2 separate regions of the Homo sapiens genome follow, and region 1 is linked to region 2. A link means that fine-mapping ties the variant in region 2 to the expression of a gene that starts in the linked region. Tissue or cell type: tibial artery. Region 2 holds a variant in brackets; the other region holds the start of a gene. All regions are shown on one strand. Distances are between the middles of the regions.

The links. PIP is the estimated chance that this variant, and not a neighbour inherited with it, causes the effect.
Region 1: it holds the start of APRT, and the variant in region 2 is fine-mapped to the expression of APRT in tibial artery (GTEx, PIP above 0.99). The same link has a PIP of 0.9 or more in gastroesophageal junction and whole blood.

What each region holds. Positions count from the first base shown.
Region 1 is chr16:88,807,786-88,815,785 of GRCh38, forward strand. APRT (adenine phosphoribosyltransferase) reads right to left here and starts at 4,143. Exons shown (of 5, transcript NM_000485.3): 1 at 4,035-4,143; 2 at 3,765-3,871; 3 at 2,638-2,771; 4 at 2,285-2,363; 5 at 1,554-2,055. The coding sequence starts at 4,114. The coding sequence ends at 1,913. CDT1 (chromatin licensing and DNA replication factor 1) reads left to right here. Exons shown (of 10, transcript NM_030928.4): 10 at 330-1,473. The coding sequence ends at 493. It overlaps GALNS (galactosamine (N-acetyl)-6-sulfatase), which reads right to left. Exons shown (of 14, transcript NM_000512.5): 14 at 5,949-6,740. The coding sequence ends at 6,654. RefSeq lists enhancers at 2,477-3,012, 4,518-5,202, 5,203-5,886 and silencers at 3,896-4,295, 4,546-4,805.
Region 2 is chr16:88,766,022-88,774,021 of GRCh38, forward strand. The region is part of intron 1 of PIEZO1 (piezo type mechanosensitive ion channel component 1 (Er blood group)); the gene reads right to left. Among named protein-coding and RNA genes, the nearest start is that of PIEZO1, 15 kb to the right of the region's middle. RefSeq lists enhancers at 1,612-2,197, 2,198-2,781, 2,782-3,365, 3,950-4,533, 4,534-5,117. The variant A/C (reference allele first, on the strand shown) is at 3,727.

The sequences.
Region 1 (8,000 bases), 42 kb after region 2:
CTCCCAGGCCTCTGGTGACCAGGCCCTGAGCACATAGGGGTCCTGACGCTACAGGGCACCTCCTGCCTCAGGGCTTTCATGGGCTGGCGGCCTCCATGCTCGGTGCCTCCTCACAGGGCCTCAACTGTAGGCCTGGCTCTCTCCGGTCACTGTTCACACCACCCAGACCTGGGCCTCTGATCAGAACCACCTCTGCCCTAAGTCCTGGTGATGGGGCCCTGAGGGCGACCAGGCAGGCACAGAGGTTGGGTGGTCAGGCTGGTTTCAAGTGCTGCCCGTGCAGGGCTGGGGCCCAGCACCAGCCTCAGTGTCCTCCTCTCCTCCCCCAGGGGAAATGGAGAAGCACCTGCTGCTCCTCTCCGAGCTGCTGCCGGACTGGCTCAGCCTCCACCGCATCCGCACCGACACCTACGTCAAGCTGGACAAGGCCGCGGACCTCGCCCACATCACTGCACGCCTGGCCCACCAGACACGTGCTGAGGAGGGGCTGTGAGCCTGGGGGCCACTGTGGACAGACGTGGGCTTCAGAAGCTCGCTGGCCTGGGCCCACCAGCATTTTCTTTTATGAACATGATACACTTTGGCCTTCCTTTCCCCAGCGCCCCTGAGGGCCAGAGGCAGATGTGGGCTGCAGGCTGCACAGCCCGAGGGTCTCTGGCTGCGGGCGGTGGGCCCCTTCATGGGGCTCACCTGGTGGATTCACATTAAACCGGTTTCTGTGGGCACCTCTGTCCTTGCTGCTGGTGGGGAAGGGAAGCCAGATCCAGCACCCCCTGGGGGGCCATCGGGAGTGTGGCTGGGGGTGAAGGGGGCTCTGTGGCAATATGGGGTTGGGTAGTGTGGGTGGCAGGCCATCCCCTCTAATCTTGGAACCTCTGAATATGGGACCTCCCACAGCAAAGGGTGACTTTTGTCATTAAGAAAGACTGGGGTGGGTGTGGTGGCTCACGCCTGTAACCCCAGCACTTTGGGAGGCCAAGGTGGGCAGATCACGAGGTCAAGAGATCGAGACCATCCTGGCGAACATGGTGAAACCCCATCTCTACTAAAAATACAAAAAATTAGCCGGGTGTGGTGGTGGGCACCTGTCGTCCCAGCTACTAGGGAGGCTGAGGCAGGAGAATGGTGTGAACCCAGGAGGCACAGCTTGCAGTGAGCGAAGATCGCACCACTGCACGCACTCCAGCCTGGGTGACAGAGCGAGACTCCGTCTCAAAAAAAAAAATTTCAAGACTGGAGAGGTGATCCTGAATTGTCCAGCTACGCCCCATGTCATCACAGGGCCTTCATGACAGGGCCAGAGCCAGCCAGCTTTGAAGACGCGGCCCTGCCCCGACACAGGCAGCCTGGAGAAGCTGGGCAGGACAAGTAGGACATCCCTGGAGCCTCCAGAAGGGACTGGCCTCTGCCCACACCTTGACTTCAGTATTTCTGACCTCCTAAACTCTAATAAAGTCATGCTTACAGCCACTAGATCTGCAGAAGAGCCCTCGCTTGCTCCCCTAGAAGATGGGCCCACATGGCCTCTTCCTGCAGTGCCTGGAGGGTTCTAGCTCCTGAGGTGAGAACCAGGACAGGTTCTGCTGGGCATCACGCCAAGCAGCACATGCCCACAGTACAGCTGAAGTCTGGTGTTGTCCTGGGGCTCCCTGCCCTGGGGAACAGGAGGACAGGAGACGGCTCTTGTGGGAAAGCTGTTTACTGCGTTCTCCCGCTGTGTGTAATTGGGTTCAGTGTGGCTGAAACACAGCTTTGCCCCAGGCTTTGGCACTTCCAGCCCCAGGAGAGGCGCTGAACCCCAGCAAAGGAATGTGTTCCCTGTGGGCAGCCGGTGCCCCTGGTCACTGCAGTTGCCCAAGGCTGATATTTCCCTGGGATCCAGCTGGAGATGTTGGGCTGGGAGGCCCTGTGGTCACTCATACTGCAGGAGAGAGAAGAAGGGTACAGGTGCCAGCTTCTCCCTGCCCTTAAGCGAGGTCAGCTCCACCAGGCTCACGCACTCCAGGACCTCAGCCTGCAGGCGGCCCAGCAGCTCACAGGCAGCGTTCATGGTTCCTGGGGATGGGAGGGTGAGGTCCCCAGTTGGCCTGGGCTGCAGAGAGCAGGTGCTCCAGGCCAGCCCCTGGGTTGGGGAGGGGAAGGCATGGGGAGAGGAAGGTGTCGGCCTGGCCACCAGGCACCCTCTGGACAACAGTAAGCTGCATCCCATGTCACACAGCGAGGTCCTGTCCCACTCCCACCAGGCCCTTGGAGCCACAGCAGTTGGCTGCGGGGAGACCCTTACCACCAGTGGCCAGCAGATCATCCACGACGACCACCCTCTGTCCTGGCTCCAGGGCGTCTTTCTGAATCTCCAGCTCAGCCTGGAGTGGGAAGTGGTGTGTGGTCCTCAGCCTCCCGCAGAAAACAGCTTTGTTGCACAGCTTGGCAGCTGCCACCCTAGACCCTGACTCCAACCCCACCTTGCTGTTACCTGGCTGTGTGAGCCCAGCCTATGTCTCAACCTCTCTGAGCTCCCAAGGCCACTGTAACCACAGCAGCTCCACTTGACACGCCTGGGAAGGCCTTTTAGAACTGGGGGAGAGTGGCCACGGTGGCCTGGCCCTGCCCTTCCTCTGGCCACCCCAGCCCTCTTACCTTCCCGTACTCCAGGGAATAGGAGGCCCACAGAGTGGGGCCTGGCAGCTTCCCCCGCTTTCGGATGAGCACGCAGCCCAGTCCAAGCTCCTGGGCCAGGGAGGGGCCAAAGAGGAAGCCTCGGGAGTCTAGGCCTGTCAGGGTAAGTGACAGGAGTGACTCGGCAGCATGGGAATCCCCAGGGGCCAGGGTTGGCCGGTGGCAAGGGGTACCTGGTTGGCTCCCAGCTGAAAGGCCAGTGACATGCACCATTTAAGGAATGTTACCCATCACCTACCCGGAGCTGCTTCCAGGTCAGAGTGCAGACCTGGGTCTGTCTTTTAAGGGACCACTTCTTAGCTGTGTGTTCCTAGGGGAGTCACCACCCCTCTCTCTGAGCTGAGCAGCCCATCTGTAACTGGGCTGGTAGAAACCTGACAGGCCTCAGCTTACTCTCAAAGGCAGCTCTGCACCAGGGCTTCTGTCTAAAAAGGGAGTCTCTCGAGGTGGCCTGAGCTGTGATGGTTGGGGGACGCTCAGGGAAACCCTGCCCCGGCCTGGCAGGAGGTCAGGGAGGGCTTCCTGCAGGAGGTGAGAAGGGAGCTCTGGCAGTGTTGTGGCTCCAGCAAGAGCTGGCGCTTTCCTCAGGGCAGTGTCCAGGGAGTGGGCTGTCACACCCTAGGAGAGGCAAGACGGCCAGGAACACTCTGTTCTCCCTGGGCCACCTCTTGGGCTCTCCCGGAGGCCTCCAGGCCTCCCTTCCCTGGGTGGGCATTCCGTGATCTTCACCAGGGAAGGCCTGGCTCGTGGCAGGCGCTCAATACCAGCTCGCAGAAGGAACAAGAAGCAAGGCAGCTGGGCCCTGTGGATTCAGCTTGGGCACTCCAGGGAGACCAACTGACCCGGCAACTCGGTCACGCCTGTCCTGGGCTGGGGACCCGGAACCTGCGGGAAGGACGCCTGCACAGCGCGGCGGCCTCGGGGGCTCAATCTCACAACCCTTCCCGGGCGACCCAAGCACGGCGCCCGTCCCGGCGCCCCCTGAAGCACCCCAAAGGCCCTCCCCCAAGCAGACGCGCAGAGCCCACGTGCTGCCCTCGGCGCGCGCAGAGGCGGAAGCGCCCTAGATGCGGCCACTGGGCACTCGCCTGCGATGTAGTCGATGCGGCCCCCGTGGGTCGCCTTCAGGTGTCGCGCCAGGAGGCCGATGGCGGCGCGGAAGGAGGCGGGGTCCTTCAGGACGGGCGAGATGTCCCTGGACCCAAGGACAGGCCTGGTGACGCCGGGGCCGAAGGAGGGCAGGGCCCCGGGGGCGAAAGACGAGGGTTCCCGCCCCGCCCGCCCGGAGGTCGCGGGCCACGCGCTCCCATCCGTAGGCCCGCAGGTCGGGGCGCCACGAGGGCGGCCTGTGCGTGCACCTGAATACCACGCCTGGGGTGGGGAAGTCGGGGAAGCTGCGGATCCGCTGCTCAACCAGCTGCAGCTCGGAGTCGGCCATGGCCGCGTGCGAAGAGCCAGCGGCAGCCCGAGCGCGCCTGCGCGGGGACGGGCGGGACCGCCACGAGGGGTGGGGCATCCCCGGAGGGCGGAGCGTGGGTGAGGGGCGGGGCATCCGTCGCCGGAAGCCTGTACCGTATTTCATGGACTCCTAGGCGCCATCGATTTTAAGACGCGCTCGCATTCCACGCACCACTGAGCAGAACGTTCGAACCGGACAAAAGTGCGAGTCAAGGCGCCCTTCCTTGTCTCGGGCTACGCTTCTGACTGCAGCCAGGCAGCTGTGGGCCGGGGCCTTGGCGGCTGGAGGAGGGGCGTGAGCTGGTCTCGCCCACGCACCTGGCGCGCGTACGGGCCGCGCCCTTTCTCCTTTATTGGCCGAGATCCCCACGCTGCGCGCGGGAGGCTGGCGCGCGGGGTGGAGAAGGGCGTGAGGAAGCGGTCCAAGTAGCAGGAGGGCGGTGCAGGGCCCGGAGGGAGCAGCCCAGGGCGGAGGCGGCGGGCCTGGGCTGGACCGGCCGGGGGCGCTGGCCTCTCGCGGATGGGCCCTGCCGTTGAGGCGGCTCTTCCCCGCCCGGACCCGGGGGAGGGAGGCCGGAAGGTGTGGCCAGGCCAGGGCGCGCATCCGCGAGGGCAGAAGCCCTTCTGTCCGCCTGCAGAGGCCAGGTGACCCCTTAGCCTTGGGGTGGGGAGCTGTGAACCCCCTGGCCGCCCGAGGACTGGTACCCAGGGGGTTGTGTGAGGCATAACTCCCCCCAAACACAATTTCCTTTCAAGAAAATCCCCAGAGCTAAAATGCCTTGTGCTCTATTCCAAGACTTTTCTTCATTTCGCAACTTTTTTTTGAGAAGGACTCTCGCTCTGTCGCCCAGGATGGAGCACAGTGGCGCCATCTGGGCTCACTGCAAGCTCCACCTCCTGGGTTCCGGCCATTCTCCCGCCTCAGCCTCCCGAGTAGCTGGGACTACAGGAGCCCGCCACCACGCCCTGCTAATTTTTTGTATTTTTAGTAGAGACGCAGTTTCACTGTGTTAGCCAGGATGGTCTCGATCTCCTGACCCCGTGATCTGCCCGCTTCGGCCTCCCAAAGTGCCGGGATTACAGGCGTGAGCCACCGCGCCCGGCCCATCATTTCGCAACTTTTACAATTCAGCTTTGGCCTGGCAGTTACTGCAGAAGGGAAAACCCACTCAGTGGAAGGCAGCCCCCAGGAGCCTTCGGAGGGGGAGGCCGGAGGCTGCATGCGGCTGCTGGGGCCCCGGTTCCAGGGCGGGTGGGGGACCCATCGTCTGATGCCAAGGGGCGTGGTAGGGGCGGCTGCCTCGCAGTGTGCGGTGGTCAGGGCTGGCAAGGCCTGGGGCCTGGGCTCCAGACCCCTAGGGAAGGTGGAAATGGAGGACCCTGACATCCTCACGTCCCCGGGGAAGCTGCCACATGAGCCGGCCCCACCGGTCCAAGTGTGTGAGCTACACTTCAGCCGTCCACGTCCAGCCCAGGAGGCCTCCGCCTTCCCCTTCCTTGTTCCTGATTCTGTCTCCCAGATGGCCCGAGGGGGGCCTGGGAAGGCGTGGGGTGGGGGGGTACTGGAGGAGGGGCCTGGGGAGGGTTCAACACAGAATTGGCCCTGTGGCTTCCTTCAACCCGGGCTGTTGGGCTGGCGTGGGAACAGCAAGGAGCCCCGAGTCCTGCCCTTCAACAACCAATGTGGCGCTGGCCTCTGGAGGAGGCCGGCCGGGAGGCAGCGGGAGCTGGGCACCTGATTCTTGGCAGCTGCTGAGAAGGTGTGAAAGGAAAATAAATCTCCGGACCCCAAAATCACTCAGCCAAGAGAAAAATCAAGCTGGGAATTAGGCAAACCTGCCTCCCGTTTTATTTCTAAATAACATAGTTACAATGATAAGAAGCTACACGCCTCCCTCATAATTAGCGTCCAGGGAAATTCCTTGTGGACAAAGGACAGACGGAACTGGAAGTCATCCCTCTGGGGCTCCCCTGAGACAAACGCTTATATGATTGCCCCGTTCCCTTACTGTTTACATAAAAATGCGGATTCACTGGGCCAGACTCAATCGTGTATTCAGTGGAAGGCTGACTGAACCAATGTACGCCATACACATACTGATCTTGTGTCTCCCTAAGATGTATAAAGGCAAACTGTATCCCCAGCCACCTCAGGCACCTGTTGTCAGGACCTCCTGAGGCTGTCACAGGTGCATCCTTAACCTTGGCAAAATAAACTGAGACTGGTCTCAGATATTTGGGGTTCACAAAGGCGTGAGACGGCAGGGTCCTGAGGTCTGAGGCGCCGTGGGCGAGGAGGAGGGTCCTGAAATCTGAGGCGCCGTGGGCGAGGAGGAGGGCCAAGCACACGCCAGGGTCAGGTCCTGGGCAGGTGGAATTGTGCAGTCCCCCTGCGTCTGCAGGTGCTGTCTGTCTGGCTTGGGCAGGGTTGGGGGAGGACCGAGGCCAGAGCCATCCTTCCTCCAGGCACTTGCAGGGCCAACCGGAGATTCTAGGCCTGGCCTGAGTCTGCGCAGGTGCTAGTGGGACCAGAGGCACTTCTTGGGAATGGATTCTGGAGGTGTCAGACACTTCCCTAACTTTTCACAGCCCGGAGGTGCCCAGTTCTGGGAAATGAAAATTGAGAAAAAGAACATGCAGTTATTCAAGCTCTTCTGGACCCAGCAGCAGCGGGCATTTTGTTGTTGCTGTTCTGAGACAGTCTCACTCTGTCACCCAGGCTGGAGTTCAGTGGCGCGATCTTGGCTCACTGCAACCTCTGCCTTCCGGGTTCAAGAGATTCTCCTGCCTCAGCCTCCTGAGTGAGTAGCTGCTGGGATTACAGGCACGCGCCACCACGCCTGGCTAATTTTTGTATTTTTAGTAGAGACGGAGTTTCACCATCTTGACCAGGCTGGTCTTGAACTCCTGACCTCGTGATCCACCTGCCTTGGCCTCCCAAGGTGCTGGGATTACAGGTGTGAGCCACCACGCCCAACCATTTTTGTATTTTTGGTAGAGACAAGGGTTCCCCAAGTTGGCCAGGCTGGTCTCAAACTTCTGACCTCAGGTGATCCACCTGCCTTGGCCTCCCAAAGTGCTGGGATTATAGGCGTGAGCCACCGCGCTTGGCCTCGAGCAGTTTTGATGTGTCCCCTGCCCAGGTCAACCCCGGACCCCAACCAATTGGCCTCAGTGTGGGGACCACCTCGGTCCAGGTGGGCAGCTACACAGACGCTCCCCAGGAATCATGGGAACTTGGGAGATGGCACCCTCTTGACTCGGCCTCTCAGCTCTGAAGGCTGCCATTGGAGAAATGAGAACTTGGTGGGGAGGTCCCGGGTATGGGGGATGCAGCTGCCAAGTGGCTGAGGGCCTCCGAGGGCCAGCAGTGTTAGAAAGGGCAGGCGGTCCTCCCAGGAGGGCCCACCCTGAGCTTCTCAACTCATCACCCTCTCCTGCAGCTTCAGCCTCTCAAGAAGCCTTTCCCAGGGAGAAGCCAGTCCCTACTGCGCTGCTGGGCTCAGTTCAGTGCGGTGCTGAGCGGAGCCCGCACCCCTCCATCGCCTGGGTGTGTGTGGACCTCACAGTGCAGCCTTGCTTAGCGGAAGCCTTGCTTGATGGGAGGGCACTTTTCCTGGCAACAGAAAGGGAGACTTATGCCGCTAAGAGGAGCCTTCTTGGCTGAAATGAGTGCAGTTTGGTTCTGTGTCCCCATCCAGGCCACTTCTGTGCCACGTCAGACGCCGCATGGCCCTGAGGGCACTTTCCGGGGACAGACTTTGGATTCTGGGTGCTGCTCAGGGTACTAAGGACAGTCTCCAGCCCTAGGCGGCAGCAGGGATGCCGCATGAGTGTCCCTGCCCCCTTGGCCACCAGAGCAGGAG
Region 2 (8,000 bases):
AGACATCACATGCGAGTCAGCGCACGGCTGTGTTCTCAGTCGGCAGCGTGGGTGCCGTGGTCACGCCTGCGGGTGGGGTGTGAGGGTTGATTCATGTGTCAGCGCTGCTGGGCCACGCTGCCCAGTTTAGTCAAACGCCAATCGCAATTTGGTGTGCAGGTGTTTTTAAAATGAGATTGATTTAAATCAGCAGACGGCATGAGGGCCTCATCCAATCAGCTGAAGGCAGGGGAGTGTCGCCTAAGGGCCCGGAGGAGGAATTCCCAGGACCGCCACAGAGAAGCCCGGCCTGAGCGCACAGCCTGGACTCGAGACTGCAACAGCGGCTCTTGACAGCCAGCGCGCCCTGCGAACTTCAGACGTGACAGCCCCACAATCGCGTGCGTCAGCTCCTTAAAATAAATACCCATTTCACAGGTAGAGAGACATATCAATATATAACAAGCACCAGGCTGGTGTGGCCGAGGCCTGGGGACCCCGAGTTCCTGCCGCCTGTGTGGTCCCTCCCAGCACCTGGCAGGGCCCAAAGGGGAAGCTCAGGCACACACCCACCTACCTCCGGGGCCCTGGGCCCAGCTGACTGAGCTTGACAGCCAGCTCTGCTGCCACAGGGCTGGGGCGAGTGGGACGCCGGGGGCCCCCACACATACTCTGGAAATTCAACAAAGTCATGAAGCAACCAAGGGAAAAAAATCAACATTCTGGGCTCATAACCACTAGGTGGGCAGGGCACTGCCTGGCTCTTCCCCAGGATCACCAGCCCCAGAACGGGGACCCGGCCCCAGCTGCTCTCAGAGCCACAGGGACGATCACCTCAGGCCACGAGGGCCGGGGCCACCCCAGGTTGGAACCCTGGGCCCAAACTGGCTAGAGTGGGCCTCAGTTTCCCCTTTCCATGAAATCTCAGAGAACATTCACTTTCCTCTTCTCCACTTTCAAAAGTTTTTAAAATGCAGAGAAGCACAAAGTAACACCCAAGGTCCTCACAGTCAGCCTGTGAGTGCCGCGACTGCTCTGCCCGCACGAGCCTATTCTACCAAGCACAGCTTTCCCATCAGCTTCTCCGATCGATTGGCTTCCCTGATTGATTGATTAGCTTCTTCCCGGATTGAGCTGCAGTGCGCTCTTCACTCATCTCCCCATTCCTCCCCCTTCCCAGAAGGAAACGGTCTCATGAGTCTCGGGACATCCTTACGGGAAGGAGACATTTCTGAGTTCTGGAATTCCATCCAGGGCCATCTGCAAGGGCATCCCTGGCCTGTGGCTGTGCTGAGACCCCTGGGCCAGGTCCTGCCCATGAGGAAGGAGGTCAGGGGGCTGTGCTGGGAGAGCTTTAAGTCACAAAAACAGGCCCCCACAGCCCAGAGCCCCCCAGCCCTGATCCCCCAGAGACCAGAATGACTGAGGCAGGAAGGAAGGGGACCAGCCACAAGGTCGAAGCTTCAGTCAGCTTTGGAACTCCCCCACTGCAGGTGACTGGCTGGGGTGGAAGCCGCCAGCTTCCCTACAAACCCCTGCTCCTCTCCCATCTCTCTCAGGACCCCAAGAGCCACATACCATCATACACTTGGCCACTGAGCCAGAACCCACATTTGCAGGGGGAGCCCATGTCATCCTCAGCCACCTAGGAAGGCGGAGTCACTGCTGTCCCCTGGCTCAGAGGAACCAGGGTCCCCAAAGGTCACAGGGTGAGGCCACCCAGCCAGGGAGGGGCAGAGCCAAGCCAGAACATCTCCGCTGAGCCTTCTGCCTCAGGGTGACCCCACCCTGCCCTGCCCTACAGCCCCGAGTCAGGACTACAGCCTTGAGGGATCGAGGGGACTCAAGCCAGCTTCCACCACTGAAGGGCAAAACCCACACTCCCTGACACAACCCCCAAGCCCTCGCAGACTTCCCGGGCTCCCTGACAGCACGAGACTCACGCACATGCTTCTCCCGCTCCCTCCCCCGGGTCCAGACCCCAGGTCCCTGAGATTTCCCCCAGGCCCTCCAGAGGGGACCCCGTGGACCAGACCCCTTAAAGCAGAGGTCTGCAAAGTGGGACCCACGAGCCCCCAAAGCCATGTGCCACCACAGTCGTGTCCTGGGGAGGGGGGCCCAGGGCCCAGGGCCCAGCCAACCTCACGGGCCCAACCTCGGTCCAGGGCTGCCAGCTGGTGGGGCAAGAGCTGGGCTCCTCTTGTGCGGCCTGGCACACTGCCTGGGCCTCGCAGCCCCTCCCCCCACATCCCAGCTTAGCTGCTGGACCTTATGGCAGGGTGTCCCCATAGCTGTTCCCACCACGGCAGGCCGGCTCCAAGAAGCTCCCCGGGCCAGGAGGAGAAGCTGATTAAGTGGCCACTTAAGAGCAGAGAGTGGATTGTTCCCTGTGGGGGGTGGGGAGGGGACTGGACGGCCCTGGCTAAAACCTATGCGCGTGCTCAGTTCCTGGAAAAAGGGGAGTGAGAAAGACGGACACACTGCCCTCTCACCCACCACATCCTGTTTTTATGGAAAACTAATCCAATTCCTAACAGCAGAGCGAGCAGCCGAACTCCCGGGGGTCCCGGGTGGCCCTGACAAGCAGGTTGTGGGCGGGGGCTCCCTAGTCCGTGGGGCAGGAGCTCGTCCACAGGGCAAGAGCGCTTCCCTCTCAGCCGCTCCTCCCTTCTCCCTGGGGAGAGGCCAGGATGGATGCGCCCTTCCTGGCAGTGAGGGGCTGGCTGACCGTCCCCACCCCTGCAGCCTCAGCCAGGCCCTGCTCCCTTCTAGGCCTCGGCCAGTCTGGGGTGGGGGCGGTGCCCACAATGGGCAGGCCAGCGACACCGCGAGCTGCAGGGCCCAGTCCGGGGCACAGCAGTATTGTGGCTGCAGACCATGGGATCTGGAGCCAGAATAGCCATGGCCGGGGCCGGATGCACCTTGGCAAAGCAAGCTGGGCCTCAGTTTCCTCATCTGTACAGTGAGGACACCAGCCCTATTCACTGCAAAGGCCACACACTGAAGTACGCTAGGACACAGCAGCACCCGCGCCCACACTTGCTATGCAGAGTGGGGGCCCCTCATCCAAAGGGGCCAGAAGTATTTCCAGTTTAGGATTTTCTGGATTTTGGAATATTTGCACACGCATAATGAGGTATCTTGGGGATGGGACTCAACACAAAATTCTACTCACATTTCAATATATACCTCGTACACATACCCTAAAGGCAGTCACATAATTTTGTGTAAATAATGACGGGGGTCTCACTATGTTACCCAGGCTGCTCTCAAACTCCTGGCCTCAAGTGATCCTCCCACCATGGCCTCCCAAAGTGCTGGGATTACAGGTGTGAGGCCACCACGCCCAGAGCATACTTTCAATAATTCTGGCTTCTGACTGTGACCTGGCGTATGAAGTCAGGCCTGGAATTTTCCGCTTGGATTTAGATTTCGGACTTGGGGACTGGGATGCCCAGGCTACACCATCCTCGCATTTTCCTTACCAATATGAAGACAGACCTGCGGAACGCCTCGGCAGCAATGGAGCTGTGGGACCGGTCCCGCCTCCTCTCCTACCACTGCACATGACCGGAGCCCCCACCTCACATCGGCCGGCTCCATTCCTGAGGGTCAGGGCCAAGCCTGGGGACCTGCAGCCTCCAGTCAGCACGCAGGGAGCAGAGCAGGGAGAGGACCCCGGGCCTGGCTGTCACTGCTTCCTCCTGAGGACCTGAGCCAGGTCTGGGGCTGAGGCTCAAACACAAC[A/C]TGTAGCTCTGGTGGGCGGAGCGTGGTGGGAAACAGGGAGGGGCCAGGGTGGGCGGGGCCAGGACGAGCCTCATGTCACCTCTGCTAGCTCAGAGCTGGCCCTGCTCCTGCGCAGGTTAGAGGGAACAGAGAGGCCGGCATGGGGCGGAGTGTGGTTAACAGATCCCCTAGGGGGTCACACCCCTTCCAATGCCACATGGCGGGGCAGCAGGGGGCTCTGAGGCCCTCCTAACCTACTCCAACCTGGAGGCTCGGGACCCCCACGCCTCTGCCCCTGAGAGAGGAAGTGAGGGACTGTTGACGCATGGCCCGTCCCCAGGGAAGAGGACTGATGCCTCCCAGGGTGTTCTCCCTGCCCACACGCCCCAGCCCCTCCCCACCCTCTCTCCAGGCAGAGAGTGCACAATCCGGTCTTCCCAAGCCTCGGTCTGTCGGGACAGAACCTGCCAAAGCCAGAGGAGGCCTGCAGGCAGCCCCACAGGACGCCTGGCAGGCGGCTCCCAGGACGTATCCCCGAGACCTCTCAGCCTGATGCCTGTGCACAGCCCGCTCCCCCATGACCCGGTCACACCTGCCCCCCAGCCGGGCCCCGCCTGCATCACTTTCTGGCTATGGACTTGGGAGCTGGCTCGACCTTTAGGAGTCTGCAGTTCCTGTCTGTGGGGTGGGGGGACGGGAGCGGCTGCCTGGCCAGGCTGTAGCGAGGATGGCACGGTGAAGAGTCCAGAGTCTGCCAGGACACTGAGCAGGGCGTTCTCCTCAGGGGCGGCTCCAGAACTGCAGTCCATCGGGAGAGGTGGCCGTTAGTGCGGGGGCCCCGCCATGGGCGGTGCCTGCCTGGGCCGCTCCCTTCCCCCTCAGCCTGAACACGGTCCTGGGTGGGGGTACTCTCCCGCCAGCTGCCGAGCACGTCCACCACCTGGTGCCTTCACTGCCAGTGACTCAGCCAGGCCGGCTGGCAGCCCAGCCGCACCAAGTCACCCTGAGCACGCCCCACGGTTCCCACGGAGCAGTCAGGTCCGGGCCAGGCGTCCTCCACTGGGCCCCGCGCGGCCCTGCCATAGGTGACACCAGCCACCACCAGAGTCGCTGGGCCTCATGTCCTCACCTGGGAGGCCAGTGAGGTGCCCTGGGGGCTTGGGCGAGGAGCTCTAACTATAGGAATCCGGTGGGCGGCACTGGAGAGACTCCCTGCCGTCACATGCCCTGAGCGCAGGGGATTAAGAGGCTCTGGGCCCTCTCATCTGCAGGCGGGGCCTGGGCGGAGCAGCTCCACCCTATCACGTCTTGCTCTGTGTTGCAAGGTCCTTCCGCCCCTGTCACTTAGCAGGTGGTCTCAGTCCCGGAGAGCCAGAGCCGTGAGGCAGAGCAGGGCAGGCGCTAATCTCACAGGGAGATAAAAATCAACCGTGCGAAAGGCCCCACAGAGCGACCGCTACTGGCACCGGGCCCAGCCTTGCAGGAACTCTGCACCCAGTGACCCCCCCTTGGGAGGTCCAGACCAGTTCCACTCTTAAGGACGAAGTGCTGGAGGCTCAGAGAGGCTGAGAGATTCACCCAACCACCGGCCCAATGGTGCTCAGCAGCAGAGCCAGGACTGGGAGCCTCATCTGACTACATACAGCTAGGAGTGCGGCGACAACAAGAAACCAGGCCAGGCGGGGCTCCCATCCCACCGCCTCCCTTGCCCTGCAGGCCCCAAGCCCAGCAGGCAGGGTAAGGAGCACACAGCTTTCTTGACTGGGGGCTCGGCTCCCCACGGCTCACGCAGCTGCTGGGCTCAGGGGCCACACACGCCCAAGCCTGAACCTCAGCAGGGCCACTCGACAAGTGCCCTATGACAGTGTCCAGCGGAGGTCCCAAGCTAGCCATGGGGGTCCCCCTCAGCCCACAGTCAGAGCAGGGCCATAGGGAGGTGCTGGGTGGGACAAGGTTGCAGAGGTGACACTAGTGGAGCCGACGTCCAGATGCCCGTCCACCCGCGGCCCCAGGCCCTCCTGAGACTCTATGCCCGTCCACCCGCGGCCCCAGGCCCTCCTGAGACTCTATGCCCGTCCACCCGCGGCCCCAGGCCCTCCTGAGACTCTATGCCCGTCCACCCGCGGCCCCAGGCCCTCCTGAGACTCTATGCCCGTCCACCCGCGGCCCCAGGCCCTCCTGAGACTCTATGCCCGTCCACCCGCGGCCCCAGGCCCACCTGAGACTCTATGCCCGTCCACCCGCGGCCCCAGGCCCTCCTGAGACTCTATGCCCATCCACCCGCGGCCCCAGGCCCTCCTGAGACTCTATGCCCGTCCACCCGCGGCCCCAGGCCCACCTGAGACTCTATGCCTGTCCACCCGCGGCCCCAGGCCCTCCTGAGACTCTGGTCAGGATGCCTGTCCACCTGCGGCCCCAGGCCCTCCTGAGACTCTGGGCATGGCTGTCAGAATGACCATCCCTGGTGCCATTGAGACCCCAGATCCAGCACCTGTGTCCAGCGCTGAAGTCCCAAGTCTGTGTCCAAGCTCAGAAGGAGGGCCCAGAATCCCAGACGTATCATGGCAGCAAGTGAGCCGGGGGTTGGGACAGGTAAGCAGGCTCTTGTGGCTTAGCCACCAGCTCGGAATATACTTTCCATGTGGACATGAGGCCCAGGTGCCAATAACCAACAGCCACGCTGGAGCTGAGGGCCCTGGGAGCCTGCAGGCCCCAGCCCACAGGCAGGTGGCAGAGGGCACGGCTTCCTCCCTCATAAAAAGGCCCGTGCCTGGCAGGGCACAGTGGCTCACGCCTGTAATCCCAGCACTTTGGGAGGCCGAGGCAAGCAGATCACGAGGTCAACAGATCAAGACCATCCTGGACAACATGGTAAAACCCCGTCTCTACTAAAAATACAAAAATGAGCCGGGCGTGATGGTGGGTGCCTGTAATCTCAGCTACTGGGGAGGCTGAGGCAGGAGAATCGCTTGAACCTGGGAGGCGAAGGTGGCAGTGAGCTGAGATCGTGCCACTGCATTCCAGCCTGGCCAAAGAGTGAGACTCTGTCAAAAAAAAAAAAAAAAAGGCCTGTGCCCCCTCCTCCCTGTTCTCTGAGGGGGATGCCCGCCGCAGCCCTGGCTCAGTCTTCATGTCACCCCCTTGCAAATGTGCAAGCTCCTGAGGCCGCAGGCTGGGGTGGGCCATGGCAGGGCCAGCCTCCCCTCCAAACACCCACGGGACACGTGAGTGGAGGCACATGGCTTCCAGCTGGCCCCAGGGGTGCCTGGAAGACTGTGTCAGCCTCTGGAATGTGAGGCGGCCTGTCTGTCCACCCAGAAGCTTCTGGCACTCCAGGGAGCTCGAGCTCGCTGTGCTCTGGAAGCAGCAATTACTCCTCCATCTGTCACCAGCGGCTCCAGCCAGCCCTCAGGTCCACGTGCCTCCTTCCTCCTGGGTCTCATTGATTCAGGCTGAGCCTCCCCCTCTGGCCCCCCAGTAACTCCCGGCGTCACGCCCAGGCCCTCGCTCAGGGGATCTGAGTAGAGGGGAGGCCTGAGTCAGGACAGCCCTCCAAGAGTGGGCAGCCAACGAGGGACCCCCTGAATAAAAACCGCAGAGGAGGTCTGCCCACCTGGCGTGGGGGCCAGGGAGGAGGTGGGCAGGGGGAGGGGCCTTGCCCGAGACCAGAGGTGGCTGGGGGCCGAGGGTCGGCAGGAAGCCAGGCGACCGATGGGCGCAGCACAGACTGCCTCCACGTGGCCCTGCACAGCCTGGCCTCACTAGGGGAAGGGTGAAGACAGCAGCTGGCGCTTCCCCTCAAAAAAACCCTGGGGGCTCAAGGCCACCCCTGAGGTCTCCAGGCTCCTAGGAACAGGGCCTGACAGGGAAAAGGCTGACAGGCAGGTCGGGGGACTGGACAGCAGCTGCCTATTGGGTGACAGGCAGGTCGGGGGAGTGGACAGCAGCTGCCTACTGGGTGACAGGCAGGTCGGGGGAGTGGACAGCAGCTGCCTACTGGGTGACAGGCAGGTCGGCGGAGTGGACAGCAGCTGCCTACTGGGGGTGAGGGCTCCGGCCACCCTGCACCCAGTGTCCTCCTGGGTGGTCTTAGGAAGAGGGTCACTCGACCCCAGCCCTCCAGTGCAGGGCCCCACCGGAGCTTGCTCTGGGCACTTCTGGCCCTGCCAAAAGTCCCCTCAGGTGCCACCATCCCTGACCACCAACACCTCCCTGCAGGTCCCCCGAGTCCCTTCAGCACCGCAAGCCTCCTCCCCGCCACTGCTGACCTTCAGAGATTGGGGCCCCTCCAGGCC